Regions from separate parts of the Homo sapiens genome. Here region 1 is linked to region 2. The links come from fine-mapping of genetic effects on gene expression. A gene starts in region 2. The other region holds a variant in brackets. All regions are shown on one strand. Distances are between the middles of the regions.

What was found. PIP is the estimated chance that this variant, and not a neighbour inherited with it, causes the effect. A credible set is the group of variants that fine-mapping cannot tell apart.
Region 1: its variant is the best candidate, but not a certain one, in a credible set for the expression of ANKRD31 in memory regulatory T cells (Schmiedel 2018, PIP 0.86).

The regions. Positions count from the first base shown.
Region 1 is chr5:74,587,733-74,603,048 of GRCh38, reverse strand. No RefSeq gene overlaps it. Among named protein-coding and RNA genes, the nearest start is that of ENC1, 45 kb to the left of the region's middle. RefSeq lists a silencer at 8,491-8,785 and a cis regulatory region at 10,664-11,024. The variant CAT/T (reference allele first, on the strand shown) is at 5,744.
Region 2 is chr5:75,232,382-75,247,697 of GRCh38, reverse strand. ANKRD31 (ankyrin repeat domain 31) reads left to right here and starts at 10,820. Exons shown (of 26, transcript NM_001372053.1): 1 at 10,820-11,115. The coding sequence starts at 11,012. It overlaps LOC124901006 (a long non-coding RNA gene), which reads right to left and starts at 10,660. Exons shown (of 2, transcript XR_007058823.1): 1 at 10,332-10,660; 2 at 6,810-6,961. RefSeq lists a silencer at 10,580-10,879 and an enhancer at 10,930-11,099.

The sequences.
Region 1 (15,316 bases), 640 kb after region 2:
TGCATGTGGAGATCCAGTTTTCCCAGCACCATTTATTGAAGACACTTCCTTTCCTCAGTGTGTTTTCTTGGTGCCTTTGTCAAAGCTCAGATAGCTTTAAATGCATGAATTTATTTCTGGGTCCTCTATTTTGTTGCATTGGTCTGTGTCTGTTTTTCTGCCAGTACCATGCTGTTTTGCCTAGTACTGTTTTGTCGTATATTTTAAAGTCAGTTAGGGTGGTGCCTTCAGCTATGTTGTTTTGCTCAAGAACGCTTTGGCTGTTTGGGATATTTTGTGGTTCCATGCAAATTTTAGGATTGTTTTTTCTATTTCAGTGAAAAATGTCCTTGGTGTTTTGATAGAGATTGCATTAAATTGGTAGACAGTTTTGGGTAGTTTGGATATTTTAACATTATTAATTCTTCTAATCAATGAACTCAGGATAGCTTTCCATTTATTAATGTCCTGTTCAATTTTTTAAAATCAGTGTTTTATAGTTTTCACTGTAGAAAAATTAGACAACTTTCTTGGTTAAATTTATTCCTATGCATTTTATTGTATTTGTAGTTTTTATAAATGGGATTGCTTTCTTGATTTCTTTTACAGATAGTTTGTTGTTGGCATATTAAAATGCTACTAATTTTTTCCTGTTCTCCTTGCTTCTCAACAGATGCCACAGAATTTTAACATAAACATAATATTTACAAAAGCTATGTCACAATGGGGAAAATATTTTTGATGGGATGTTACATAAAAATAAAATAGCACTAGGAATTGTATGTCGAGTGTTATCCTGCAACCTTACTGAATTCATTTATTAGTTCTAACAGGCTTTTGGTGGAGTCTTCAGGGTTTTCTATATATAAAATCATGTTTCCTGCAAACAGGAATAATTCAACTTCCTCCTTCTCAATTTGGATGTCCGTTATTTTTTTCTCTTGCCTAATGTCTCTGGCTAAGACTTCTAGTACTGTGTCTTGCTCCTGATCTTTGAGGAAAAGCTTTCAACTTTTCCTCACTCAGTACGATGTTAGCTATGGGTTTGTCACATGTGTTTATTGTGTTGAGATATGTTCCTTCTACACATATTAGGGTTTTTATCATGAAGGATGTTGAATCTTATTAAACACTTTTTCTGCATGTGTTGAGATAATCATATGGGTTTTATCCCTCATTCTGAATGTGATGTATCAGGTTTATTGACTTATGTTGAACCATCCTTGTATCCCCGGGATGAATCCCACTTTATCGTGGTGAATGATCTTTTTAACGTGCTGTTGGATTTGATTTGCTAGTATTTTGTGGAGGATTTTTGCATCTATGTCCATCAGAGATATTGGCCTACAGTTTTCTTTTTTTGTTGTGTACTTGTCTGGTCTTGGTATCAGGGTAATGTTAGCCTTGTAAGGCACAAACTAAGACAAAATACCATCCTTTCTTTCTTTTTTTTTTTTTTGCCCAAGAAATTAGTAAAAGTTGCACTTAGTAAATGGTGAGAAAGTGAGAGAGAGAGCGAGCTGACAAGGATGGGTGCTTTCATACATTGTCAATGGGAGCATAAATTGATATACTATTTGAAAACACAATTTGAACTATATACATTTTAGGAATCTTTAAAAGTTTTATACCTTCGACCCAATTATGCAACATCTAAGAGTCCTTACTATGAAAGTAATCCCACTGATTAAAAAAACTTCTAGTTAAGGCTGGGCATGGTGGCTCATGCCCATAATCCTAGCACTTTGGGAGGCCAAGGTGGGTGAATCACCTGAGTACAGGAGTTTGAGACCAGCCTGGTCAAGATGGTGAAACTCCATCTCTACTAAAAATAAAAAAACTAGCTGGGTGTGGTGGTGTGTGCCTATAGTTCCAGTTACTTGGGAGGCTGAGGCAGGAGAGTTGCTTGAACCCAGAGGTGGAGGTTGCAGTGAGCCAAGATGGTACCACTGTACTCCAGCCTGGGCGACAGAGTGAGACTCTGTCTCAAAAAGCAAAACCAAAACAAACCAAAACAAACTTCTAGTTAAAAGGAATGTTAATGGGGGCCCTAAATGTCCCACCACAGAAGACTGGTGAGGCAAACAATGACATATTCACTTCATGAAATATTGTACAATTATTTAACATAATGTTTACAAAAGGTATGTCACAACAGGCAAAATGTTTATGATGGAATGTTAAGTAAAAATAAAATATCATTCAGTTGTATGGGGAGTTAAATCAGTCATATTAAAAAGAAGAAAAAGTAAAACCCAAAAATAATGTGTAAAAAAGGCTGAAAAGAATTATATCCAACAATAGGCTATGGTTTTATTTGGCTAATGATGTACTTTTTTTTTCTTACTTTTCTAATTTTCTTTATAGAACAAAACCTACTTCTAAAATCATAATTCATTTATTAGTTCTAATAGGCTTTTGGTGGAGTCTTCAGGGTTTTCTATATATAAAATCTTGTTGCCTGCAAACAGGAATAATTCGACTTCCTCCTTTTCAATTTGGATGCCCCTTATTTTTTTCTCTTGCCTAATTTCTCTGGCGAGACGTCTAGTACTGTGTTAAATAGAAGTGGTGAAAGTGGACATCCATGTCTTGCTCCTGATCTTTGAGGAAAAGCTTTCAACTTTTCTTCACTCAGTACGATGTTAGCTATGGGTTTGTCGCATATGTGTTTATTGTGTTGAGATATGTTCCTTCTACATATATTTAGGGTTTTTATCATGAAGCGATGTTGAATTTTATTAAACACTTTTTCTGCATTTATTGACATAATCATATGGGTTTAAAACCTATCCAATAATAACATACTAAGTAGGCTAAGATAAGTGAATGGTGCAGCTCCTATTCTGGTGTCAGATGAAAAATCCTACCTTTAAGGGAAATGGGTGAATTTTCCAAAAATTCTCGACATTGACATGGTTTAAGCTGAGTCATTACAATTAAATATGAGGTATAAAATGGACAATTATCTAGTTGTGTTTGTCACTTTGTATCCTTTTTGGTTGCCTGAGATGGTTCTGTTTACCAACCACCAGTGAGCCGCCATTTACCCCATGTTGTGTCAGTAAGCCAGACTCCTGGATACCTGCACAGACTGGATTCTCAAGCCACTCCTGGACCATTCTGAGAATTAATTTCTAGAAACTCATTATTGCCTGTCTTCCTAAGGGCCCAATTTCATCAAATCTGATATTTCCTGTCCTCTTAAAATTATGCCTACAGCTATCAGTAACATCAGAAGTTACAGCTAGAAAAATTAAAGAGATCTTAGCTATAATGAGCAAACTAGTCTGAGGATCTTCAAGGATGGGAGGAGAAAGGCATTACCAGACAATAGTTTTAGAAACTCCTTTTGCATTGCTTGATTGGAGAAAGGCCTGGCTTTGCCCTTCTCCCTTTCTCCTGGCTAGTGCCTACTCATCCTTAGGTCAAATTATGCATTGTCACTTTCTCATTCATGCTTTCCTTGACTCCCAAACCAGGATAGACCTTTACACTTTTCACAGCACCCTGTTCTTCTTCTTCCTAGGACTTGTAATTAGTACTTATTTTATTTACTTATTTAGACGGGCTCTTGCTCTGTTGCCCAGGCTGGAGTGCAGTGGCTCAATCATGGCTCATTGTACCCTCGACCTCCTGGACTCAAGGGGTCCTTCCACTTCAGCCTCTGGAGTAGCTGGGACCACAGGCACATGCCACCACACCTGGCCCAATACTTAATTTTTAAACCTTTCTTCCTGCTGGACTCTGAGCTCAAAGAGAGCAGAGCTCTTAATCTATCTTTTTTTAAATCATGTCCCCAGTACCAAGAACAGGAGCCTGGTATGCCCTAGGTGCTGAATAAATATTTGTTTAATGAATGAATTTTCCAGTGTGAAGTCTACTAAAGAATTAGTAAGATCTACCAAAGAACTGTTGGCACAAAACGAAGTAGTGGTGGAGTTGGAACTATAACTACTAAAAGCTTTATTATTTTTCTTTCTTCTTTAACATTTTTATTGTTTTTATTTCACATACGTGTGTGTGTGTGTGTGTATTCATATTATTTCTCTGGCACTGAGTTGAAGAAGATTGGACTTGGCTTTTCGTGCTTGAGGTTGTTGGAAATATACTTTGGTGGTTTCCTCTACTATGAGAATAGCAGACATTTGGAACCCTTCCCAAAGTACAATCTAAATACTCCTTAGACAACTTCATCCACTTGAGTGGTGCTTTTATGTAAAGTTTAGCACAACCTAAGAAATGCATGTGAAGGCATTCTATGATTTGGCCTGTCTATGAATCCTGAGACCCCAAAGTCTCCCTTTCCTAAAGTTCACAATAAATCACTTCACTTAGCACATTTTTTATTCTGCCACCTCCACTTCCCTGCCTTTTTAGAAGCAAAATTCTTGGAATTTATCTTACAGGCACAAATCACCTTGTAATTCTTTGCACTTACTTAGTAGCTATTGAGCATGTAACTATAGAGCTTAACAATTATGATATACTGTAATCATGCAAAGATTTTAATCTTTCAAATTAGATCTCACCTCCACACTGGGGAAGAAAAGGGAATTTACAGGATAATTAGCTCATGGGCTAGTTGGCACTTCCAGTCATTGTCAGGAAGTCCTCTGCATGAACGGTCTTAAGGTACCATTTATTTTTTATTAAGTGCCATTTGTTAAAACTACTTTGCATGCTTCAAATGAAAGAAACTGGAGCAAACGCTTTTCACAAGCTGAGCAGCCTTTTTCCTGTAATGAACGTTGGGCAGTGGTGGATAAATAATTGATCCTCCACATATAACAAGAGGCACAAGTCAAAATGTAAAAGTAATGGCTGGACACGGTGGCTCACGCCTGTAATCCTAGCGCTTTGGAAGGCCAAGGTGGGAGGATAGCTCGCGGCCAGGAGTTTGAGACAAGCGTGGGCAAAAACATAGCGAGACCCAATATTTGATTAAAAAAAAAAAACAAACCATGAAAAATTAACCAGGCGTAGTGGTGCATGCCTGTAAGTTGTAGCTACTCAGGAGGCTGAGGCATGAGGATTGCTTGAGGCTAGGAGTTCCAGGCTGCAGTGAGCTGTGATTGCACCACTGCACTCCAGCCTGGGCAACAGAACAAGACCATTCCTGAAAAAAAAAATTAAAGTAAGATGCCCCACTGAACTCTGCTGTGCCCCCTACACCCACCGAAAGAAGCCAGATTTGTATGTATTCTTTATGAATTGGTTTCACAGAACTCTGGGGAAAGAGAGTTTTGAGTTGCAGAGCTGCCTACCCTTACTCCAAACCAGAGGCGCTCCACCCTGCTGACAGGAGTGGATTGTGCACGTCTCAGTCTGCATTCAGTGACCATGTTTGTAACTTGAAATTGGCCATGGTCGGGTGCAGTGGCTCATGCCTGTGATCTCAACACTTTGGGAGGCCAAAGTGGGCAGATCACTTGAGGTCAGGAGTTCGAGACCAGCCTAGGTGATATGGCACAACCCCATATCTACAAAAAGTACAAACATTAGCCAGGTGTGATGGCACGTGCCACTCCAGAGTGAAACCCCATCTTGAAGAAAAAAAAAAAGAAATTAGCCACGACGGCACTAATTACACCATGAAAATCTGGCTTGTTATACATTTCCAGCACATCAATCTTAAACCAGTTCCAAAGTTACTTCTAGCAGAGAGAAGGAGAGAGAAGAAAGTACAAAAAGAGTAATAAAGGGAGGAGAGAGATAGTTGGGAAGACACACACACACACACACACACACACACACACACACA[CAT/T]CCAGTAAAACAACCTAACAGAGGAGTCCCTGGCCCAGAGCAGAGGCTTAACAAATGTGAATTTCTCCTTTTCTTTGGCAGTAGAGACGAGGAATGAGGACTAAGGGGCTAGTACAGCAGTGAGTGGCTGTGGGGGGTCTTTATGCCTTTTGAGTCAATTGTCTCTGATAAATGTGGCCTTTCCAGGGTTTGACCTACAAACGTGAGGAGGCCGAGAGGAATGTGGTCAGGAAAGGTGGGCGAGTTAAAAAGAGAGGTGGTGCTGTTCTGCATCGGCTCCCATGGCAGGAGACTAGCCAGAGCAGGGAAATATGCAGGAAATTCAGCCGTAAGTGCACAGGGATTGCTGGGGACTGTGTTCAGGGCTTTGGGAAGGCTCAGAGCAATTCTTTCCTAGAGATGTAATTGAACTTAGTGATTTTTCAACTTTGCAATCTTATTAGAAGCCATAAACCATTCTTTATTCACTATGATAAAGAGAATCATCAGGATGAAATTTCATCACCAATCAAAAAGTATTCTTGTGAGCTTATTATGTGACTTGTCCTCAAGCTGGTACTGCAGAGTGCAAGAGAAAGATAGAGCCTTTCTGAGCTTCCATGTTTGCTAATGCATTTCTTTATATTATTATGAGTTCCATTGCCATCATCAGTAAAATTATAGTACTGCTAATAGAGATCCATAATAATAAATTCTCTGCTATGGTTTTACACTTATTCATCCTTAGAGCTGGACTCCATAGGTCTTGTTTCCATGGGTCTCATCAGGGGCAAAGATAATCCACAGGAAATGGTAAGAGAACAATTAATCGCTGGGCAGTTTGATAGTCATGAAAAAATCCAGTGTGATTTAGAGAAGGGAGGTAGCACTGTGGGCAGGTACTTTTTTTTTTTTTTTTTTTTTTTTTTTTTTTTTTTGACAGAGTCTTGCTCTGTTGCCCAGGCTGGAGTGCAGTGGCACAGTCTTGGCTCACTGCAAGCCCCACCTCCCTGGTTCACACCATTCTCCTGCCTCAGCCTCCCAAGTAGCTGGGACTACAGGCGCCTGCCACCAGGCCTGGCTGATTTTTTGTATTTTTAGTAGAGACGGGGTTTCACCGTGTTAGCCAGGATGGTCTCGATCTCCTGACCTCGTGATCCGCCCGCCTCGGCCTCCCAAAGTGCTGGGATTGATTACAGGCAAGAGCCACCACGCCTGGCCAGGTAATTCTTATTTTAAAATTAATTATTAATTTATTATTATTATTGTACAAATAGGGTCTTTCTATGTTCCCCGGGCTGGTCTTGAACTCCTGGCCTCAAGCAATCCTCCCATCTTAGCCTCCCAAAGTGCTGAGAATATAGGTGTGAGCCACTGAGCCCAGCCCAGGTAATTCTTAAAGACTATGTAATAGAGTCTTTCTGAGATTCCATGTTTGCTAATGCGTTTCTTTATATTATTATGAGCTCCATTACCATCATCAGTAAAGTGATAGTACTGCTAATAGAGATCTATAATAATAAATTCTTTGCTGTGGTTTTAGACTCATTCATTCTTAGAGCTGCACTCCAAAGCAGGACATATGCCAAGTATTTTAAATCCCTGCTTTCTACTCACTGAGTCAAGTTCAATACCTTGTCTCCAACTTTTTATCCTGTGAGTAGCAGAGCCAGTGGAAAAACAAAACAAAATAAAACACAAGCTTCTACATGTGATCACTGGCTCAAATGAAATAATTTGAAGACCAATATCAGATTTGAGGATAGAAGTTAGCCCAGGAAAGTTCCAAAATGCCAGAGGAGAAGAGAACAACCAAGAAAGTAATATATATGTATATATATATATACTTCTTGATGTGGAACAGATTTCCTCTGTGGACCTTCAGACAATAGGGAGGTATGAGGACCATATATGGAAAAATTGGAAGTCAAGATAAGTTGAGATTAAGGTGAGCACATGGGTTTCGGTCTCAGCAAGGAGCAATTCTAGGAATGTTTTAGAGATAGCGCCAGGCAGGCCAGCTGAGGAAGTGGCTATGGGAACTCAGCATAAGTTCAAGGGTCAAAGACAGCTTTTAGACTCGAGGCCTTGGGAACAAATTACAGGAAAGAAATAAAGGAAACAAAAAAGATATTTTTATTTTCCAAAGAAGAAATTTAACTGGAACAATATCAGAAAATATAGACAGAAAGGATTAGTGTGTTTTAAAAGTGGCAGAGAAGATGAACAGGGGAGAAATGTAAATTTAAAAGCAGTCATCATCATCAGAAAAATGAAGTATTTAGTATTTTGGAAAGTAGGAAACTTAAATATCAAAGTATAAAAGAAAATCTAAACCTGGAACAGCTCCAAAATTGAATGGGCAATACGTTTTAGTCAAACTATTCAGAGAATATAGGGCAGAGCAGATTTCTAAGACAGAGATATGTCAGTTGTTTCCTGTTACACTGTTGTGCAGACAAGTCATAGCAACTAGTTTGACCAAAAGATACTGTTAAGATGGTTCTTGGATTGACCAGATCACTGTGTCCAGGAGAAGATAGGGATTCAAATCCTGAATGCATTCATTCCATTTTTCATTCACTCATTTAACAAATACTTACTGACTGCCTACTTCAAGTCCGTCTCTGTGCCATTGGGGATATGAAGATAAGACACAAGCAATCCTTGCCCTTGGAGGGCTCTCTGTCAAGCAGACAAAACAGATGGCTTAGAAAATATGTAATTACAAAATAATGTAATGATGTGTTGTAATTAAAGAAAGTTAATAGGCAATTGCATTGCCTTTTAAAAAGAGACTCCCATTTCATTTCTGAAATTATATGTTGCTTACCCTACATAAGAGAATTACCCAATTCCTTTACATTGCTCTGTGGGGACTCTGAGGGCAAAGGAAGGCTATGTTAGAATCACTCGTCATCACGCAGAGAAAGCACAGATGTGACGGGGAGATACAAAGCTTGCCTCTGAAGGACATTTTTTGTTGGAGAAGCTTTCATTTTTATAGCATTCAACATAGTTCAATACTGAGCATCAGTGCTGTAAGAATACCAGCATTCTTCATCTAGCAGAGCAGTTCTTGCCAGATGGCCTTTCCATTTCGCACAATGACATATGTCATTGGCAAACACAAAGGCAAAATGCTCAGTTGAAAAGTCAAAGATTCAGTCAATCAATAGGTCATCTTGTTAAATTGAAATCAAATGAGAAATTTTATTAATTTTGGAATTGAAAAGACATCTTTTGTTTTTCCAGAGAATTAATTAAATGAGAGGTGTTTTAGGGGTATTATATGGACAACAAGCATACTTTTAGAATCTTGTTCAAGAAGGGGAAAGACAATACTTGTAAGCATTCTGGGTTGCGCTGGGGAGGTATACCACGTGGTATATACATGGGTGATAGGATTTGATCTGTAGCATGAATTGATGATACAGGAAGTTCTTTATCACAGGGTTTGTCTCAACTTCTGCCTCATGCCTTTAGCCTACTGGCTTCTTTCTACACAGTTATGGTGTGAAGAATATGCCATTTGTAAAGCCCAAATCAGAAATGATCTATGAACAGAAGCTGTGTGTATTCATACAAAATGATATTGAGAAACGGCCGGGCACGGTGGCTCATACCTGTAATCCCAGCACTTTGGGAGGCTGAGGTGGGCAGATCACAAGGTCAGGAGTTCAAGACCAGGCTGGCCAACACAGTGAAACCCGTCTCTACTAAAAACACAAAAAATTAGCTGGGCATGGTGGCACACAGCTGTAATCTGAGCTACCCGGGAGGCTGAGGCACAAGAATCGCTTGAATCTGGGAGGCGGAGGTTGCAGTGAGCCGAGATGGTGCCATGGCACTCCAGCCTGGGCAACAAAGTGACTGCGTCTCAAACAAATAAACAAAAGAGAAATGTTGCTTCAGGCTGGGTGAAGTGGCTCACACCTGTAATCCCAGCACTTTGGAGGCTGAGGCAGGTGGATCACCTGAGGTCAGGAGTTTGAGACCGGCTGGCCAACATGGGGAAACCCTGTCTCTACTAAAAATACAAAAACTGGCTGGGAGTGGTGGTGGTGGACCTGTAATCCCAGCTACTTGGGAGGCTGAGGCATGAGAATCGCTTGAGCCCGGGAGGTGCAGGTTGCAGTGAGGCGAGATAGTGCCCATGCACTCCAGCCTGGGAGGCAGAGCAAGACTCCGTCTCAAAAAAAAAAAAAAAATGTTGCTCCAGAACGTGTTTCTGAAGAGACATTTGATTGTCAATTGTGCCTAGGTTGGTGTGAGTCTGTATGAGCAGGCTCCAGCACACACTGCTTGAAGCTCAAGTTTATAGTAAGATTCTGTACTTAGTTTATTTTCATGGGGAGTGGTCGTAGCAAATGGAGATTACTGAGGGGAGGTATAAGACACTCTCAAGTTACCCCTTGGTGCTGCCCTTCTCCTGTGGTCAAAACTCAGGAGAAACTGAATACTATAAATCCCCCTCTTGAAAGAATCTTAATGTCCATGAGCATCTTAAGGGATCCAAGTTCTGTTCAACTGAAATGTAGCATTTCTCAAATTTAAGTTACCACCGAAACCTGCCCCATCACCCTTCTGCCATGTTGTTTCCCTACCAAAGTCCTACTGACATTCCAAGGAAATTGTGTTTCTTCAAACATGTTTGTGTGGGTACTCCCAAAAGACTTTTCAAAAACTACGTGTTCCCTCGTGAATATTTAAGTTAACAACTAAAATTTTTCATCATGGATTTAAAGACGTTCACTCTCTGTTAATAGAAGGTAGAAAACATTAACCATATTATAATTTGAAATAAGATTAGAGCTGACTATAGCGGAAATAAATATGATAGATTTGATAAAATAGATTTTAAGTATCTTTCTGAAACACTGAATCAGAATGAATTCAAATATAAATAATTTTACCTGTGGGTTTTATTTTTAAAAAGTTGATAATTGTAGGAAACGTTCCAGGAACATTAAATAATCAATGCCACAAATCTGTATGGCGGTTGATTATTTTGAATTCATTACCTCCAAAAAAGATCAAGGCTCATCCTAACAGAAAGAGCCAAGATGATGGGGAAAGACAGGAAGTCTGTGGGGTTAAGGGACTTTGATGACTCATTACCCTGCTACAGAAAGATATGGGATAGGTTAAGGGTATGACTTTTTTTTTTTTTCAAGTGTGATTATGTTTATTAGACAGTTTTAGAAAAGACACCATACAGAAGTTGAGGATCTAGACACTGATTCCCTTAGAATGATCCACTTAGCGTATGGTCCTCCGTAAGTCTGCGGACCGCGGGGATGTGAGTAGCTCTCTTTGAAGACGTCTGCCTTAGAGTTCACTTCTGGGTGCTGCTTCTGTCAGAGGCATGTGAACCAGAGCAACTCCATCTTGAATGGGTAAAATGAAGCTGAGACCTCCTGGGCTGCATTCCCAGATGGTTAAGGCATTCTAAGTCACAGGATGAGACAGGAGGTCGGCACAAAATACAGGTTATAAAGACCTTGCTGATAAAACAGTTTGCAGTAAAGAAGCCAGCCAAAACCCACCAAAAGCAAGATGGCGATGAGAGTGACCTCTGGTCGTCCTCACTGCTACACTCCCACCAGCACCCTGACAGTTTACAAATGCCATGGCAACATCAGGAAGTTCCCTATATGGTCTAAAAAGGGGCAGCATGAATAATCCACCCCTTGTTTAGCATATCGTCATGAAATAACCATAAAAATGGGCAACAAGCTGCCCTCAGGGTTGCTCTGTCTATGGAGTAGCCATTCTTTCATTCCTTTACTTTCTTTTTCTTCTTCTTTTTTTTTTTTTTAACTCATTTCGAATATGAGAGCACGACAGAGTCTTGCTCTGTCACCCAGGCTGGAGTGCAGTGGCGTGACCTCAGCTCACTGCAACCTCTGCCTCCTGGGTTCAAGTGATTCTCCTGCCTCAGCCACCAGAGTAGCTGGGATTACAAGCACGCACCACCACACCCGGCTAATTTTTTACATTTTTGGTAGATATGGGGTTCCACCATGTTGGCCAGGCTGGTCTGGAACTCCTGACCTCAAATGATCCTCCTGCCTCAGCCTCCCAGAGTGCTGGGATTACAGGTGTGAGCCACCGTGCCCAGCCTATTCCTTTACTCTCTTAAAAAACTTGCTTTCAGTTTACTGTACAGACTCGCCCCGAATTCATTCTTGCACAAGATCCAAGAACCCTCTCTTGGGGTCCAGATTGGGACCCCTTTCCTATAACACAGCCACAGAATTGAGCAGTGACATCTGAATTGGTCTTTTGCCTAAGTCTCTTTTTGGTCCCCAACCATTTAGTTCCATAGCTCCCAAACCTTTTCTCTGTACTATGAAGCAAATTTCACAGCTGGTGGGAAGGTCCCTCCACAACACGGCCTTTGCTGAACTCATGCTTTCTTCCCCTCTGCTCAACCCCTTTCCCCAGGAGCCCTTCGCTCCAGCTTCAGGCATCTATAGACTCTTGCCACTGTGCCTTTGTTCTCTGTCTGGGAATATTATTCTGCAGCTATCTGCTTCTTCTACCTATTGAACAGTTTGACTCACCTCTCTGGGAGGGCTTCTTGTTCAGAGTCTCTCTCCCTGTCCCCCTGTCCTTTGTTTCTACTTCCAGTGTATCTTCTATATCTGTGTGCCTTGAATTAGCATTGCCTGAACATGTATTGTCTCCTTCATTATGTTCACGTCCAGAGCAGCAAGGACTATACTGTATTCACCTGTGTGCCCTCCTAGCACCTAGCACAGTGCTGGATAAATGTTGGTTGGTCGACCTCACCTAGTTTAAAACCATTTGGAATACGAGAGGCACATGGATCTCCAGGAGGAATGTTGCTCATCCTTGTGCCTGGGGGACCTCTGCCTAAGGTGTTCGGCTCTTTGGCACTACCCATAGCTTGGGAAACCAAAGGAATAAAACATCTATTTTCCCAACCTACCCTAACTAAAGTGGCAGTGGTATGTGGGTGACTTGCAAGCTGGCTTATATTTATGGAATAGCTGTGAAATTTGCAGGGCTACCCTCAGCAATACAAAAGCAAATGAGTATCTCCTTTTATTAAGAGAAAAAAAAAAGTCTTCATGCCCAAAGCATTGTAAGGAAAAGAAGACCTTAGTTTCCCCTAAAGGGTTTAAAAAAGAATTTCCGTTTCTGTTGTCTGTAGTATCTGTGTGGCAGGTCCCTAATCTTTTCTTTTTAAAATTTCTCTCAAAGGATGGTTAAAGAGTCTTTAATTAACTATTAAAATGAGTGTTCTAACATGGAGGACAAGATTTAGAAAATCCCTTTAATTACTGGAACCAGATTTTCTCCTGATTTGTAAATGCCAGTTTACTCCCCAACCAAATTTGGCTTTAATTAAACAGGTGGGAGGCTGAGGGGGCGTGAGTGCTGGAAAGTGCCTTAATTTGCATCGGCCCCAGTTTCAATGACCCTACGGTTTACTGTTTAAACTGGAAAAACAAGCAAAATGAGATTTGCTTTCCAAACCAGGAACTCATAGAAATGAGACACACCCTTGCCACCTCCAATTTATTCAAATACCACTGCTGCAGGATTACCAGAGGGTCCTTCAGTGGTATGAATTTATGAAGGAGCCATGCTTATTTATTTATTTTTTAAAATCTCTCTAGATACATTAATGAGGCAAAACTAGGCTTATGGTTCTAATGACAAAGAAAGAAAAACCAGAGTTTGCTCTACCCCTCTCTCAATTTAATGTTTAACATTCAGTGCGGTGCACAGTTTGTTGAGAAAATAAGGTACATGTTTTGTCATTCCCCTTACGGATTTCAGTCAACACATGGAGGTGTTTGAAATGATCTGCTAATCCAGTTTTCTTTCCTTGAACCATCTGGTTCAAATTCTGTCTACCTGCTTGGGGTGCACCAGTCTCGTCTGCATGTACATATAAGGAAGTCACAACTCATTAACAGTTTAGGGAAAATCCCTGTGGAAATATACAACTTTACTATTGTGGTAGGTTTCCTCTTGGGAGCAAATTAGATAGGACTTTGATATAAACCAAAGAAACTTGAGGGTTTTTGGAAGACATGAGTGGTCCTGAAAAAAACCATTAAACTAATTTAAAAGCTTTTATTTTAAATGGTAACAAAGTTGTTGCCTAAAGTTATTGCTTAACATTAACTCACTCACACCATAGCTCAGCTGTACATGGTCGAGTGCAGTGAGTGATGTACAGAATGTGGCCTTACTAATTTCATCATGGGGCCCCGACCTAATTTCAGGGATGATCATCCCAAAATAATAATTCTGTGGCAGACATTTATTATTGACCAAGCCATCAGACCTACACAATCTTCTTGTTGCCTCCATTTTACAGGCTGGAAAAGCGCAATACCCTCTTTTTCAGCCTTCCTTAAGCCAGGCATATCCACGTCACATGATTTTGGCCAAAGAATTACAAGTCAAAGCTTGCCGGAGGCTTCTGAAAAATATTTTTATTTCCTGATAAAAAGGAAAGGCAACACTGGATCTACCCTCCCCTTCTTAAGCCCAAGGAGAAAATTCAATGTAGATGTGATGTCTACAGCTGAGATAATCATCTTGTCGCTGAAACGGAAAAGCTATAGAAGTTGCAGGCATCAGTCTGCCTTTGGCAAGGTACTGAACAGAAACCAGCCTCCTTCTAGATTTCTTCCTATTTATTTAAGTCACTTTATTGGTTAATTGCAGCTGAACGCAATCCTAACTGATATAAACCCTTGAGAAAGAGCTTCCTGAGCATAATAACTTGTCAACTTTCCTTCTTCCACTGGGACACCTCCAGTGGTTGGGTTATCCATACAGTCCTGGGAAAAGGCATTTGGGCCTGAGCACTTGCTGGATGATAATGGGAGAAGTTGAATGAACAAGTCAAAGACCTCAGAAGAAAGATTAAGGATTATTCCCTGCCTCCACTATACCTATGCAAGAAGTGATCCAATTAGAATGTTCCAGTCTAACGATTTTATATGTTATGAGTGAAAATGAAAAGTCAGTTATTCATATAATGACACCCTTCTCCTCCATCACAGGCCCAGTCTCTGATTCACTGACACACTTCTCTCCCCCTACTTCTCTCTGCCTACTTCTCCAGCTGTTAGAAATCTCCTAATGAGGTCCATGCAATGGTTGATTTGCTTATTTATTTATTTGTTTGTCATAGGTGAAGCTCGATGCCAATCAACACTCACTTCCTCCTTCCCTCCTCCCCATTTTTCCTAAGCACTTTGCCTCAGCATCACAGGTCTCATCTTACAGAGTTACTTCAAAGGTGCAACATCATCATCGGAAGTTACAGTGCATGCAGATTTATAGTGTCTGACATGCTAGCTAAAAAAGAAAATCTTTGGTGATGAGGAAATAAAAAGAGAATCCTTAAGAGCAGATGCAGATGTTGTATTTCCTGATATAAAATAGGATAGAATATCTCAAAGAAATATGCTGTCATAAACATTTTTACTTTTCCTGAATGGGATTTTGTTGGGGGGAAGGAAAAAGAAAAAGTACTTCCTATTGACCTTACAGAATAGAATGGAAAATAAGGCTACAAAAATCTGACTGTGTTCAT
Region 2 (15,316 bases):
AGAAAACAAAAGAGAATAAGAGAATATCTTCATGACTTTGGCTTAAGCAAAGATTTCTAACCCAAGACACAAAAAACACTATACTGGGTTTGATAGTATCCCCCCAAAACTTATTTCCTTTGCAAAGCCTCTGAATATGACTGTATTTGGCCAGGTGCAGTGGCTCATGCCTGTAGTCCCAGAACTTTGGGAGGCCAAGGCAGGGGGAATCACCTGAGGTCAGGAGTTCGAGACCAGTCTGGCTAACATGGCAAAACACTATCTCTACTAAAAATTCAAAAATTAGCTGGGTGTGGTGGCAGGTGCCTGTAATCCCAGCTACTTGGGAGGCTGTGGCAGGAGAATCACTTGAACTTGGGAGGCAGAGGTTGCAGTGACCTGAGATTGTGCTACTGCACTCCAGCCTGGGTGACAGAGCAAGACTCTGTCCTGACCAAAAAAAAAAAAAAAAAAAAAAGCTGGGCGCGGTGGCTCACGCCTGTAATCCAAGCACATTGGGAGGCCGAGGTGGGTGGATCACCTGAGGTCGGGAGTTCGAAACTAGCCTGACCATCATGGAGAAACCCTGCCTCTACTAAAAATACAAAACTAGCTGGGCATGGTGGCACATGCCTGTAATCCCAGCTACTCAGGAGGCTGAGGCAGGAGAATCGCTTGAACCCGGGAGGCAGAGGTTGCGGTAAGCTGAGATCATGCCACTGCACTCCAGTCTGGGCAACAAGAGCGAACCTCCATCTCAAAAAAAAAAAAAAAAGAATGTGACTCTATTTGGAAATATAGTCATTGCAGTTGTAATTAGTTAAGGTGAGTTTATAGTGGAGTAAGGTGGACCCTAATCCAATATGATTGGTGTCCTTATAAGAAAAGAAGAGACCCAGAGACAAAAACGCACTAGAACACCAGGTGATGATGAAGGCAGGGATTGGAGTGATGCATCTACAAGCCAAGGAATGCCATGAATTGTGGCCAAGGTCAGAAACTAAGAGAAAGGCATGGAACAGATTGTCCTCTAGAACCTTCAGAAAGAGCATGGCCCCATCCACATCTTGATTTTAGATTGCTGGCCTCCAGAATGGTGAGAAAACAAATGTCTGTTGTTGCCGGGCGCGGTGGCTCATGCCTGTAATCCCAGCACTTCAGGAGGCCAAGGCAGGTGGATCACAGGTCAGGAGACCGAGACTATCCTGGCCAACATGGTGAAACCCTGCCTGTACTAAAAATAGAAAAATTAGTTGGGCATGGTGGCAGACACCTGTAATCCCAGCTACTCTGGAGGCTGAGGCAGGAGAATTGCTTGAACCCGGGAGGCGGAGGTTGCAGTAAGCCGAGATTGCACCACTGCATTCTAGCCTGGTGACAGAGCGAAACTCTTTCTTAAAAGACAAATACGTAAATAAATAAAAAATAAGTATCTGTTGTTTTAAGCCATCCAGTTTGTGGCAATTTGTTAATGACAGCCTTAGGAAACTAATACCAGCACTAATCATAAAAGAAAAAAACTGATAAATTGGACAGTATCCTAATTAAAACCTTTTACTCATCAAAAGACACTTATATTAAGAGGCCAGGTGTGGTGGCACACGTAATTCCAGTACTTTGGGAGTCCTAGATGGGCAGATTGCTGAAGCCCAGGAATTCCAAATCAGCCTGGTCAACATGACAAAACCCTGTCTCTACAAAAAATACAAAAATTAGCCAGGCATGGTGGTGTGTGCCTGTAGTCTCAGCCACTTGGAAGGGTATGGGGGGCTGAGGTGGAAGGATCACTTGAGCCCAGGAAGTGGAGGCTGCAGTGAGTCGTGTTCATGCCACTGCACTCCAGCAGCCTGGGTGACAAAGGGAGACCTCATCTCTTAAAAAAAAAAAATAGACAAGCCAGAGACTAATAAAAAAAATTCATGATACAGATATTTGACAAAGGCCTCTCATATCCAGAATATGTAAAGGAATGTTAGAAATCGATAATAAAAATACAAACAGCCCAATGGAAAAGTGTGCAATAAATTTGAATAGACACTTCACGAAAGGTATATAGACAGCCAACAAGCACACAAAAATTTGCTAGTATTATTAGGCATGAGGGAAATGCAAATTAATACCACAGTGAGATACTATTTCATATCCATTGAAATGGCTGGCACATAAAAGATTGACAATACAAATGCTCGTGAAGATATGACGCAAAGGGAACTTTCATACATTGCTGTTGGGAGTCGTCCTCTCTTTGGAGAACTACACGGCAGCTTTTTAATAAAGTTAAACATATACCTACTATATGACCAGGAATTTTGCTCATCAGGTATTTATGTACCCAAAGAGAAATGAAAACATACACCCACAAAAAGATTTCAACAGGAATGTTCATAGCAATCTTATTCATTACAGTGTCCAAACTGAAAATAACATATATGTCCATTAACAAGAGAATGCACTGAACAAATTTGGTCTATTTGCATAATATAACAATACTCAGCAATAAAAAGGAATGACCTGGTGCAAACAATGTTGGCGAATCTTGAAAACATAAAACTAAGTAAAAGAAGCCAGTTTAAAAAAATACGTACAGTGTGATTCCATTTGTATGAAAAACTATCATTTGCAGGTGGATTTTGAGGAAAGGGCAGGAGTGATGGAAATATTCTTGATCTTGTTTTAAGTACTTAGGTGGTTACCTGAGTGTGTGTGTGTCTGTGTGTGTGTGTGTGTACATACACATGCACGAAGAGAGAGAGAGAGTCAAAAATCATTGAACTGCATTTTTTTACTATGTGAAGATTCTGATTAACCTCTTGTCACTGGGATTTTTTGTGGGTATAGCTGGTATTTTTTTTCTACAGTGGCAGACCTACTAATACATTAGTCTAAACCTGTTTATATGGCTGTTTCGGTTCTACACAAAGAAGATCCCATTATCATGTATTTATTTGGCAATATTATCAGTCCAGAAATTATTAAAATTTCTCTTTTTATTATGTCTTATTTATGTAAATTATACTTTTAAGATTCAAGCTATTGCTTGTGTATTACCTTTTTTTCCCACCTACAACTCCCATTCTCTTCCTTTAGAGTTGAGTATGCTGTTAAACAAAATAAATGTAGAAATATAGAATGGCTCAGAAAACACATTGAAGTGAAAATACAAGATTTGTGCATTTCATTGTATGTCAATTATACCTCAATAAAAAGAAGAAATAAAAATTTGTGGTGTTCTGCAGTATCAGGATCAGGTGGTGTCTTGGTATGTGTGGAGGGCTTTATTTATATCTTCGTATCTCTTTAACCTTCCTAAACAACCACAAATAAACATAGAATCTAAGATAAAGCCACAAATATTCCATGTAAGCAGCTAAGTGAAAACCGTGTTTGCTATTCAAATGCAAGCTTTGGTGAAGTTTCAGAGCCCTCACTTCCAAGCAGATTTCATCCTTAAGCCTTTCCTGTATGAAATTCCAGAGCTGTCGTTGTTGTGCTCTTTGCTTTATTCTGCAAACAAGGTAACATGGGCAGCTACACATGTCCTAATATACAGCCGTATTTCATTCTTTATAATGACAGCAGAGTATTTCACTGCATAATCCCCTAATGATGAACACTTAGTTTGTTTCCAACTTTTCAAAATTACAGTTGGTGCAAGCATATCAGTAATATAGGAATAAATTCCTAAAAGTGGAAAGGCTATCTCTAGGGGTATATACATGTAAAACTTTTTTTTTTTTTTAAGAGAGTCTCTTTCTGTTGCCCAGGCTGGAGTACAGTGGTGCAATCTTGGCTCACTGCAACCTCTGCCTCCCAGGTTCAAGCGATTCTCCTGCCTTAGCCTCCCAAGTAGCTGGGACTACAGGCATGTGCCACCACACCCTGCTAATTTTTGTATTTTTAATAGAGACAGGTTTTCACCAAGCTGGCCAGGCTGGTCTTAAACTCCTGACCGCAAATGATCCACCTGACTAGGCCTCCCAAAGTGCTGGGATTAAAGATATGAGCCACCGTGCCCAGCCCATGTGAAACATTTTCATAGATGTTGCCAAACTGGTCTCCAAAAAAGATTGAACTCATCTCCCTCCAAGAGTATATGAGAACACCTATTTTCCCCGATCATTGCCAGTGCTGAGCATTATCAGTCTTTTTTTAAATCTTTGCCAGACTAATAGATAAAATAAACCAACAAACGTGTCATTGGCTGTTTTAATGTATATTTCTTTAATTATGAGTTAGGTTAAGCATGGTTTAAAATCCAATGTTTTAATCAGTTACTATCACAGAAAAAGACCAGATGTGGGGAGGAATAGAAATGGAAAGACATTGAAATATAGACTTTTTAGCATTCGGGCCATCAGTGAGTATCACTTGTCTGGACAAGCAGGCAAGGAGGAAGCTGTCAAACTTGTTAAACTAGTTGACAAAATCAATGTCATGTTCTCTAGGCTGTTGCATTTGAGTCTGTAATTCTTTTTGACAGTCTGTCATGGCCTTATTACTTTGATTGCCAATTCTTGATGCCAACATTACATTGTGTTTATAAGGGGAAAGTAATCTAAGAATCCTTACAAAACCCTGATGATATATAATAATAGTTTAATGCCTGTGTTCCAATATTGTTTTTTTCACATCATGATAAATTATACAATGTTGTAAGGTATTTCTTCTGAGACAGAAGATCAGTGTATAGCTATTGCCCCTTTCTGCTTCTGAAGAAACATTATTTACAGTCTAATAGACTAAACAATGAATAACTGTAATAGTAGAGACCACATAGAATAGCAACATCTGGTAGGCATCCTGGAGTAATGGGTGGGGAGGGTCGTTATAATTTACCTCTAGGTGTGTCTAGTCCTCTGATTCTCCTTTGTGAAATGCCAAGTGTTTTTTCAATCATCCTCTGCTGATTTTATGGGCTTCATTATAATATATCTTTTAATCAATTGCCAGAATAACAGATACCATTAGTGATTCTTCAGAGGTTTTTCATCTTGGAAATACTAATTATATTAGGCTATCATCTGAAATTTCACAGTACTGAAACCACCTTTGCAAAATTATAACTTAGGAAATTAAGACAGTGAAAGAAATCTGACCTAATCAACTCCGTCTTGCTTCTAACCTTTAAGCTGTCCTTGTTCATTCCTGGGTGTAGGCCAAACTAACTTTGGGAAGGAGTTCAGTTCATGGTTTGACTGAAACAAAATTGAAAATACCCCTTTCCCGAAAAGACCCCCTTCTTGCCTGGGATCAGTCTGTCTTTTCAGGACTAACAAGTTAGCTATAAGATTAGAAATTACAATTTGGGGGTCATGCAGCCTCTGGCTCCAAGAGTCTGAATCTCCCCAAATTGCTTCTGGGGATAACATCACTACTGTAAAACCTAAAATCAGTGCCCAAGATATTTTGCAGTCCCTGAGCTTGATGGATCAGCTGACACCACCCAGACTGATAATCTGGCTCAACCAGTTCTGCCATCCACCCAGGAACAGAAGACAGCAAGAAAACCTAACTTCCACCCCCTATGATTCCATCTCCAACCTGACCACTCAGCACTCCCCACTTCCCAAGCCCCTACCCACCAAATTATCTTTAAACACTCTGATCCCCAAATGCTCGGCAAGACTGATTTCAGTAATAACAAACTTCGGTCTCCTGCATAGCCGGCTCTGCGTGAATTACTCTTTCTTCATTGCAATTTCCCTGTCTTGATAAATTGGCTCTGTCTAGGCAGCAGGCAAGGAGAACCCATTGGGTGGTTACAGTACTTTCAACTTTCTGAAGTGTTTTATGTCTATTTTATGCCATTTTAAAGTGAAATTGAACTTATTAAATTCTGCACTAAGAAGGGACAGCCTATAGGAGTTGTGGGTGGCATATCCCCACACATATGAATCAGCTATAATGATCGCTAAAAAACAAATTTAGGGCTGGGTGTGGTAGCTTACCCCTGTAGTCCCAGCACTTTGGGAGGCTGAGACGGGCAGATCACCTGAGGTCAGGAGTTCGAGATCAGCCTGGCCAACATGGCGAAGCCCCGTCTCTACTAAAAAAATACAAAAATTAGCCAGGTGTGGTGGCACATGCCTGTAATCCCAGCTATGAAGGAGGCTGATGCAGAAGAATTACTTCAACCCGGGAGGCGGAGGTTGCAGTGAGCCGAAATCGCATCACTGTGCTCCAGCCTTGGCAACAAAAGTGGAACTCCGTCTCATAAATAAATAAATAAATAAATAAATAAACAAACAAATTTAGGTACTAAACCAACACTTAATCATGTGCAAACTTGCCTTTGTGTGCTCCATTATTTTGCAGTTTTTGAGAAAAGATTTCACATATCCTGATTTTTCAGTTACATACTTATTCCCATCCATTAAAAAAGTTTACATGACAGCTTTAATTTGTGCCAAACATGTGAATTGCTTGGGTTAATGGATTAGTAACTTATTTTTGTTTAAAAAAAAGTCTAAGTCTTTGAGAAAATGATTCTTTTGGAAAGTGTATTTTTTTTTTTTTTTTTTTTTTTTGACACAGGATCTCACTTTGTCACCCAGGCTGGAGTGCAGTGGTGCAATCATAGCTCACTGCAACTCCTGAGCTCAAGGGATCCTCCTGCTTCAACCTCCCGAGTACCTGGGTCAAATGTGCGCCACCACTTCTGGCTAATTTATTTTTATTTTTGTAGAGATGGGGGTCTCTCTATGTTGCCCAGGCTCCTCGGCTCAAGTGATCCTCCCATCTCTGCCTCCCGAAGTGCTGGGATTACAAACATGAACCATTGTGCCCTGTCGGGAAAGTGTATTTTAAAATACTTATCATGGAATACTTGGTGAAATACTTCATATAGTTTTATTTTGGGGAGAAATATTACTAAGGTGAAAGTGGCTGCTGGATTTAGTCTCTTAGAGATTCATATTGTGTTATGATAAATCAAATCTTCCATGAAAGTCTCATCTCTTACAGTTCTAGGATCCAAAGTAACCTGGATAGGAAATAAATAATATGAAGCTATAGGCAGCGAAGAATCTTAATTATAAAAGCAAAATATATTGTGTAATCACAAAATAATGAGCCTTCTTTTTCTTTTTAAACATCAAAAAAAAATTTTAAATTCACCTTTACAACAATAATTCCCCAAGAGGACATTTTTCTTGTAAGATTATAGCCCAAATGGAGTAGACCAAGTAAAATTTAATTACATTTCTTAAAAATTATGGCCAGGCGTGGTGGCTGAAGCTTGTAATCCCAGCACTATGGGAGGCCGAGGTGGGTGAATCACCTGAGGTCAGGAGTTCGAGGCCAGCCTGACCAACATGGAGAAACCCCGTCTCTACTAAAAATACAAAATTAGCCGGGTGAGGTGGCACATATCTGTAATCCCAGCTCCTTGGGAGGCTGAGGCAGGAGAATCACTTGAACCCGGGAGGTGGGAGGTTGCAGCGAGCCAAGATCGCGCCATAGCACTCCAGCCTGGACGACAAGAGCGAAACTCCGTCTCAAAAAAAAATTTTTTTTCCCCCTCATTAACTATGGTTATTCTGAATATAAAGTGTATAGGAGAGGCAGGATAAAGTCTTTTTATCGTTATTAATTTTAGAATAATAAATGGTGTCTAGCAACCTCCAAAAGTAGCCAATTATTATTTTTTAATAATAATGTTTACAGATTTTTACATACTCGGCGATGTTTTAATCTATTTGAAAATTCAAACTAATTCAAAAGAAAGCTGAGCTCTATTTCCTTTGAAACACAGTTGCAGTACCTGATTCCTGCCATTCCTGAAATACCTGGGAAACCTCTCCTTGGTTCAATTACATGACTCAACTCACCCTGCTTAAACCAGTATGAATTGTACTGCAGCCTAGATTTCCTAAAACAGATCTTCTGTTCATTTTTCCACCTCTGTCCTGCACTGAAACTTTGGATTTCATAAAAACAAACAAAAAAAGGTTTATTTAAAATCACACTGGCATTTATGAGGCTCATCTCTGCCATTTCTTTTTCATTCTTTGAATCTTAGCAACTCTCTTAAATAAAAGGAGAACAGATGATGCAAAAATAACTGACTTTTTCCCGCCAAAAGAGAAAGCATTTTTAAAAAGAATGTGAATTTCAGGCCCAGAAGAATGTGAATTTATCTATAGCAGATCCTCGAATAACATTTATTTCAATGGTGTTTCAACACTGATGAGGGAAGAAAATTATTATACTTCCCAGCCAGGGCCACTGTGTATGTGGAGTTTGCATGTTCTCCCTATGTCAGCATGTTTCCTCCAGGTATTCTGGTTTCCTCTCACATCCCAAAGATGTGTATGTTAGGCTCATTGACTTATCTAACTGGTCTCAGAATGAGTGTGTGTGTGTGAGTGAGCACGCTCTTCAATGAAATGGCCTCCTGTGCTGGGTTGGCTCCTGCCTTGAGCCCTGAGCTGCCAGGATAGGCTCCAGCCACTCTCAACCCTGAACTGGAATGACTAGGTAAATAATTATCTTATTTGTTTTTATTAGTCTTTCTTAAATATATATATTTTTATTAATCTTTCTTAAATATATATGACATTTCTTATATATATTTATTAAATATATATTAAATATATTAAGAAATATCTTAAATATATATCTTAGATATTTATTATATATATTAAATATATTAAGAAATATCTTAAATATATATCTTAGATATTTATTAAATATATTAAATATTTATTATTAAATATATATTTAATAAATATCTGATATATATTTAAGATATTTCTTAAATATATATATTTAATAAATATATATATAGCTCACGTTTATTTCAATGTTTAATAGTAAAGGTGTTTTGGTGTTTATTTACAAGTTTGGTAATGTTTTTGTGACCAGAAATATGTTGTAAGAACTTAACTCTCATATATATCAATTAGACAATGGTAAAATTGGTTTCCTTGTAAGTCATTTTGTTTTAGGTTGCAGTTTCCAAGACCCTACCGACAGACATTAAGTGAGGACTTATTGCACTTAGCTTGTTACCAGCTGTTTGGAGCAAGTACTGTTACTAGTGGAGTCATCTTTCCCTCTGGGGCAAATGGAGCCACTCACCACCATTTACTGGGTATGCATCCCCCAATTCCTGTGAAAGCAGAGTTGGATAATTAAAAGAATGGGTGAAGTGGGCATAGTGGCATGAGATTGTAGTTCCGGCTATTTGGGAGGGTGAGGTGGGAGGACAGCTTGAGCCCAGGAGTTGGAGATTAGCTTGGGCAACACAGAAGAATGCGCTAATGAATTAATTAAACAGTGGGTGAGCAGGAAAGGTGATAGGAATTTAGGTCTGATTTAGACACGGAGGGTATAAATGGACTACTGTTAAAAAAAATAAAAAAGAGGTCTAGTTCTTTGCATATTTATTATTGCTCTGCCTAATTTACAGAGTTGAGGCGAGGAATTTTATTTAAGTAAGTTACTTATTCAAGTAAGTTTATTTTTTTATTTTTTGAGACATGGTATGACTCTGTTGCTCAGGCTGGAGTGCGTTTGCTCAATCATAGCTCATTATAACCTCAAACTCCTGGGCTCAAGCGATCCTCCCGCCTCAACCTGAGTAGCTGGGACTACAGGCCCATGCTACCATGCCCTGCTAATTAAAAACAAATTTTTTGCAGAGATAGGGGTCTCACCATGTTGCCCAGGCTGGTCTTGAACTTCTGGTCTCAAGCAATCCTCCTGCCTCGGCCTCCAATGCATTGAGGTTACAGGTAGAGCCACCACCCCCAGCCTCAAGTTAAGTTTAGAAGATAATCACCAATCAAGCATTTTAAATAGCAGTGGCTTGAATATACATAGTAAAAACACAAAATAATAATAATGATAATAATGGCAAAGCTACTCCATATAGTGAAAAGGGCAATGAATTGGGAAGTCAGAAATCTCTAGCTCCATCCATTTATGACAAAACTTAGACTTTATATGTGCTAGATGCTGGAGACTCCAAGGTGAATACTAAACACTTGCTATGGGAAAACAACTTGGTCTTTTCTTGAATCTTCTTCTCACTTGGCAAGTGGAAGCTCACTTGGCTTTGTTTTGAATTAGTTTGAATTAAAAATGTTCAACTAGACTGAAACACATCAAATATATAAAATTCTAGTACTTCATTAAAACGCAATTGACTACTTTTGGAGGTTGCTAGGCATTACTATTATTATAAAAATTGATAAAAGAGGAAAAAATAAAGCATTTATCCTGCCTTTCCTGCATAATCTGTATTTCAGGTAACCAAAGCGTTGTTGAGAGAAAAAAAAAATGCAAAATACATCACTGAGATTAGTTGATGAGCTAAAACTTCTGATAAACGTATCTGTTTTGTCTACCTCAGAGGACACTTGAGGAGAGGCTGTCAAGGGATTAAAGGGAAAGGAAGCACTTGGTGGGCTGCAAAAACTCTCTTTAGGTCTAAGGTCGCATTCTGGCTCCAGAATGCCAGGGCTGCTGGGGCGGGCAGGAGCTGACAGCTCTTCCCGTATCTGGGGCTCACAAGCATCAGGTGCATGGCAGGTCACCCTCCCGGCCAAGGGTGTTAAGCAGGCTCGGTCTGAGTTCTGGGTGCGCCACGCCTGCCTTTCTGGTCTCTGCAGCAGCAACCCCAGCACCCTCAAAGCCTAGCGACCGAGAATGAGAAACCGTGAAAAAAACACGCAGCGGCAGGCCACGCCCAGAGTAGGCCTGCGCGCGCGCGCGCGGCCTCCCACTTCCGGCCACGGGAGCTGGGGGCGGGGCCGAGCGCTGCGCAGGGCTCCGTCGTGTGGCGAGCGGCTGCCCCCTGTCTGCGACGAGCGGCGGGACCCGCGGGCCGCCTCGCAGACTGCTACCCCGCCGCGCTCGCGGCCGCCTGCGTCCTCCTCAGCAGCCCTGCGACAAGTCCCGGCTCCTGCTGCGATTATATTATTTTTATTTTTAATTCACAATTTCCCCTGGCCCTCAAAGCGTTTTTTTGTTTGCGGGCAAGAGGGAGTTAGAGGAGGGTAAAAAAGACTTTGAATGTGAGGCAAAGATGGAGGAAGGCGTCCAGGCCCCAGACTGGGACAGTGATGAAACTGTGATAGAGGGTTCAGTGACGGAGAGCGACCTGGAAGAAAAGGAGCTGCCCTGGAGAAGGTGACCATCATTAGGGCCACAGTGCCTGAACCCTCGCGCCAGGGCGGCCCAGGTGCCCTCTGAGGGGGTCAGAGTTTTGAGTGGAGATCGTGACCAGAACATGTGCTTGTGGGCAGGATCAGAGCCTTGTGGGGCAGCCGTGCCTGAGCTGAGAGCTTGTAAATAAGCAAACACAGTCTGTTCCCACCTACCCCCAACCAGCTAGGGATAAAATGAGGTTTGTACTAGGTGGCTTTATAGCATTTTTCAAAAGGCTTTCCTTTTGGGGGCTTTAAGTCTTTTTGCACAAGCAAAAAAGATCTTGGGTCTGAACTTAACTGCATTTTGTTTCAGGAGACTTCATTTTGCTTCAAGAGACTCGTAGCTCAGTTCTAGGAAAATGGGTAACAGTTTCTCTCAAGAAAAGAATGTGTGATGGGGAAACTGGTCCCTGCCAAACTGGAAACGAATAGTTTTATACGAATCCAAAAAAGTCGGTATTTCAGGTTATCGAAACCTTTCTCTAACATATTCTCTGTGCTAGACACAGGGAAAAGAGGGCAGGGATGAGGCCACTAGGTCTGCTTCATATGTGCTCAGGGCTGTGTCTGGGACTTAAGTTGGATCGTACACAGAATTAGGTCATTCTCCTTTCCCTCTCTCTCTTCTCCAGGATTCTCCTGCCCCCTTTCCTCATCATACCCACTTGCCAGTTCATATGATCAGAAAGACAGGTTTCTTTGAGTGTTAGCCTTTTCACTATACAGCAGTTCCTTACAAGGGGGACAGCCTTTAGCACAGAGTTAAGAAAAGAGAGAAAAAAGGGGGATTCTGTCCACACTTTTCAGGCAATACCGATCCCTTTTCCCAGTTCCTCTGGTAGACACTTTCTCTTGAGTTTTATGTTCCCCAGTTGCCATGGTTGGTGTCTGCTCTGAGGCTAGGGCCAGCCTTGGGGCAGGGCTGGGAGGTGAGAGAGAAAGCAACATAAAGCCCTGGGCTTTGTCCTATACCTTCTGGCATGCAGGGGTCATTTTCCTTGGTCTTCTGGATAAAAATAGGTTTACTGTCTGTGCCCACTGGATGGTTCAAAGCTGAAAGACAAAAAAGAACCAAAAAACCGAAAACAAACTGAAACTCGTCAATAAATGGGTTGTTATTAAGATTTCAACTTCAGTCCCCAATCTACCTGCTATTGTTTACTTTTCAAGGTTCTCGAGTAGTTTTTAAAAAATATTCATTCGGAGTTTTTGGTTGTAATGAGAAACAGGCAGAGGTTGCTATGAGCCAAAATGACTCCACTGCACTCCAGCCTGGGCGACAGAGTGAGACTCTATCTCAAAAAAAAAAAAAAAAAAAAAAGTACCAGCAAGACTTTCTGTTGAACTAGACAACTGATTCCAAAGTTTATATCGTAAAATAAATAAGAGCAATTAGGAAAAGTCTGAAAAATAAGAACAATAAGGAGGTAATGACCTATAGGATATTAAAATATTTTCTGATATAAAATATTTTAAATATGATACTGGCACATAAAGTGACAGATCAATAAACAGCATAAAAACCCCCAAAATAGAATCACATACATATGGGAATTTAGTGTATTACAGAGGTGGCATCTCAAACCAGCGAGGAAATGATGGGATTTTTCAAAAAATGATATTGGGATGATGAAGGATGTATGTAGAAAATAGTTTAGTTGAATCCATATTTCACACTGTACTCCAAAAAAATTCCATATGAATCAAAGATGTAAATGTTAAAAAAAAACCAAAAAGTATTACAAGAAGCCAAAAAGGGATTCTTTTATAACTGTAGAGGAAGAAAGATATAATTATAATACAAAACTCAAAAAATTTCAATTATCAAGATTACAAACACATATACTCTTTGACACAGTGCTTCTGTTTTTAGAAAATAGTGTTACCTCTGTCTTCCAACATATATACACTTAGAAAATATCTCTGAAAGAATTACAAAACAATCAAACACCTTGGTTGCCTGTGGGAAAGAAAGCTTATATTTGAGGGGACAGAGAGATATTTTACTACATACCCTATTATATTGTTTGTTTTGGAGACTGGATCTTACACTATTGTCCAGTCTGGAATGCAATAGTGCAGTCATAGCTCACTGAAGCCTCTAACTCCTAGGCTGAAGTGATCTTCCTGCCTCAGCTCCCTGAGTAGTGAGGACTATGAGCATGAGTAATCAGGGCTAGTCTATACTGGTTTTTGAATTTTGAACCATATAAATATATTGTCTATTCAGGAACACTATAGGAAACATGAGCAATAAAAAGAAGCATGAATGAGATAGAAATCTGACCTAATTCTACTTGTATTAAGACTTTGGTATATTTTCTTCCAGCTTTCTATGTAGGCTTTTGTGTGTGCACCTATAATTCTTTTACAAAGTTTGAATCAATTTGTACAAGTTTACAGTTTTCGCTTAACATTATTTTTAAACATTTGCAATGTCATTAAAATTCTTCCCTAAATTATTGATAGTTTTCTGTCATAAAGGGATAATTTGTTGAAGCATTATATGATTTTAAAACAAAACATTTAGTTTGTTTTTAATTTTTTGTTATTGCAAATAACTCTGAGATAATTTCCTTAAGCATAAATTGTTGGGGTTTTTAAAAATAATTTCCTTAGGAAAGAATCTGGACTATTTTTTTTTTTGAGACGGAGTCTCATTCTATCACCCAGGCTGGAGTGCAGTAGCATGATCTCAGCTCACGGCAGCTTCCATCCACCCAGGTTCAAGCCATTCTCTTGCCTGGGTCTGCTGAGTAGCTGGGACTACAGGCGCATACCACCATGCCCAGCTAATTTTTGTATTTTTAGTATAGATGGGGTTTCACCATGATGGCCAGGCTGGTCTCGAACTCCTGACTTCAAGTGATCTCCCCACTTCAGCCTCCCAAAGTGCTGGGATTACAGGCATGAGTCACTGTGCCCGGCCCTTATTGGTACTTTTATTGGCATAATGTTAAATTTTTACGTTTACATATTAGAATATTAACATATTTATATTAGTTTTTTATTTTTAATTAAGATTTTAGTAGGGGCAGAAATTCTGCCTTTCTCCTCATAGGGCCCTGGTTAAGCCTAAGAATTAAATATGAAATAGATTAAATACTTTAAATATTAAAACTTATGTAAATTTAAAATAAGTTTTATGGGACACAGGAGTCCTCATAAGGAAATGAAGACCCAAAGAAATGGCAAAACCTGGTTGGGCATGGTAGCTGATGCCTGTTATCCCAGTGCTTTGGGAGGCTGAGGTGGGCAGATCACTTGAGGTCAGGAGTTCGAGACCAGCCTGGCCAACAAGGTGAAATCCTGTCTCTATTAAAAATACAAAAATTAACCGGGCATGGTGGCATGCACCTGTAGTCCCAGCTACTCAGGAGGCTGAGGCAGGAGAATCGCTTGAACCTGGAAGGCGGAGGTTGCAGTAAGCTGCGATTATATCACTGCACTCCAGCCTGGACAACACAGCAAGACTCCCATCTCAAAAAAAAAAAAGGAAAAGAAAAAATTAAAAAAAGAAATGGTAGAACCTATGTGCTTTTGTATTGGGTTAAACAAAGAGAGGCAGTTGTGGAAAAGTAACTAAATTATGTAGGGAGGCTAAAGGAAGACAAGAATTATTTTAACAAGATCTGTTTGTACAGAATTCTCTTGGCTATTGAGAAATGTTTCTTTTCTCCTTCTACAGGGAGGGCATCTTTTACATAGGAGTTTTTATCTCCTGTTTTCAAGAAGGAAAAGGGAAGCATCTGCTGTTTTTCAAGTTGCCTTTAGCTCAGAGTAATCCGTATGTCACAGTGGCTTATTTTGGGGTGGCATATTCTGTCACCCTTCAAGGAGGAATTTACATAAAGTTCACCTTTTTAAGAGTATGGTTCTGAGTTTTGACAAACATAATTGTGTAACTACTATCACAATCAAGATATAGAATAGTGTCATTATCCCCCAAAATTCTTCCATACCCCTTTTGTGTTATTTTTAAATTAAAAAAAAAAAACACACAAAATTTGGTTGGGTGCAGTCGCTCACAGCTGTAATCCCAGCATTTAGGGAGGTCGAGACCTGAAGGTCAGGAGTTCGAGACTAGCCTGGCCAACATGGTAAAACCCTGTGTCTACTAAAAATACAAGAATTAGCTGGGCCTGATGGCAGGCACTTGTAATCTCAGCTACTTGGGAGGC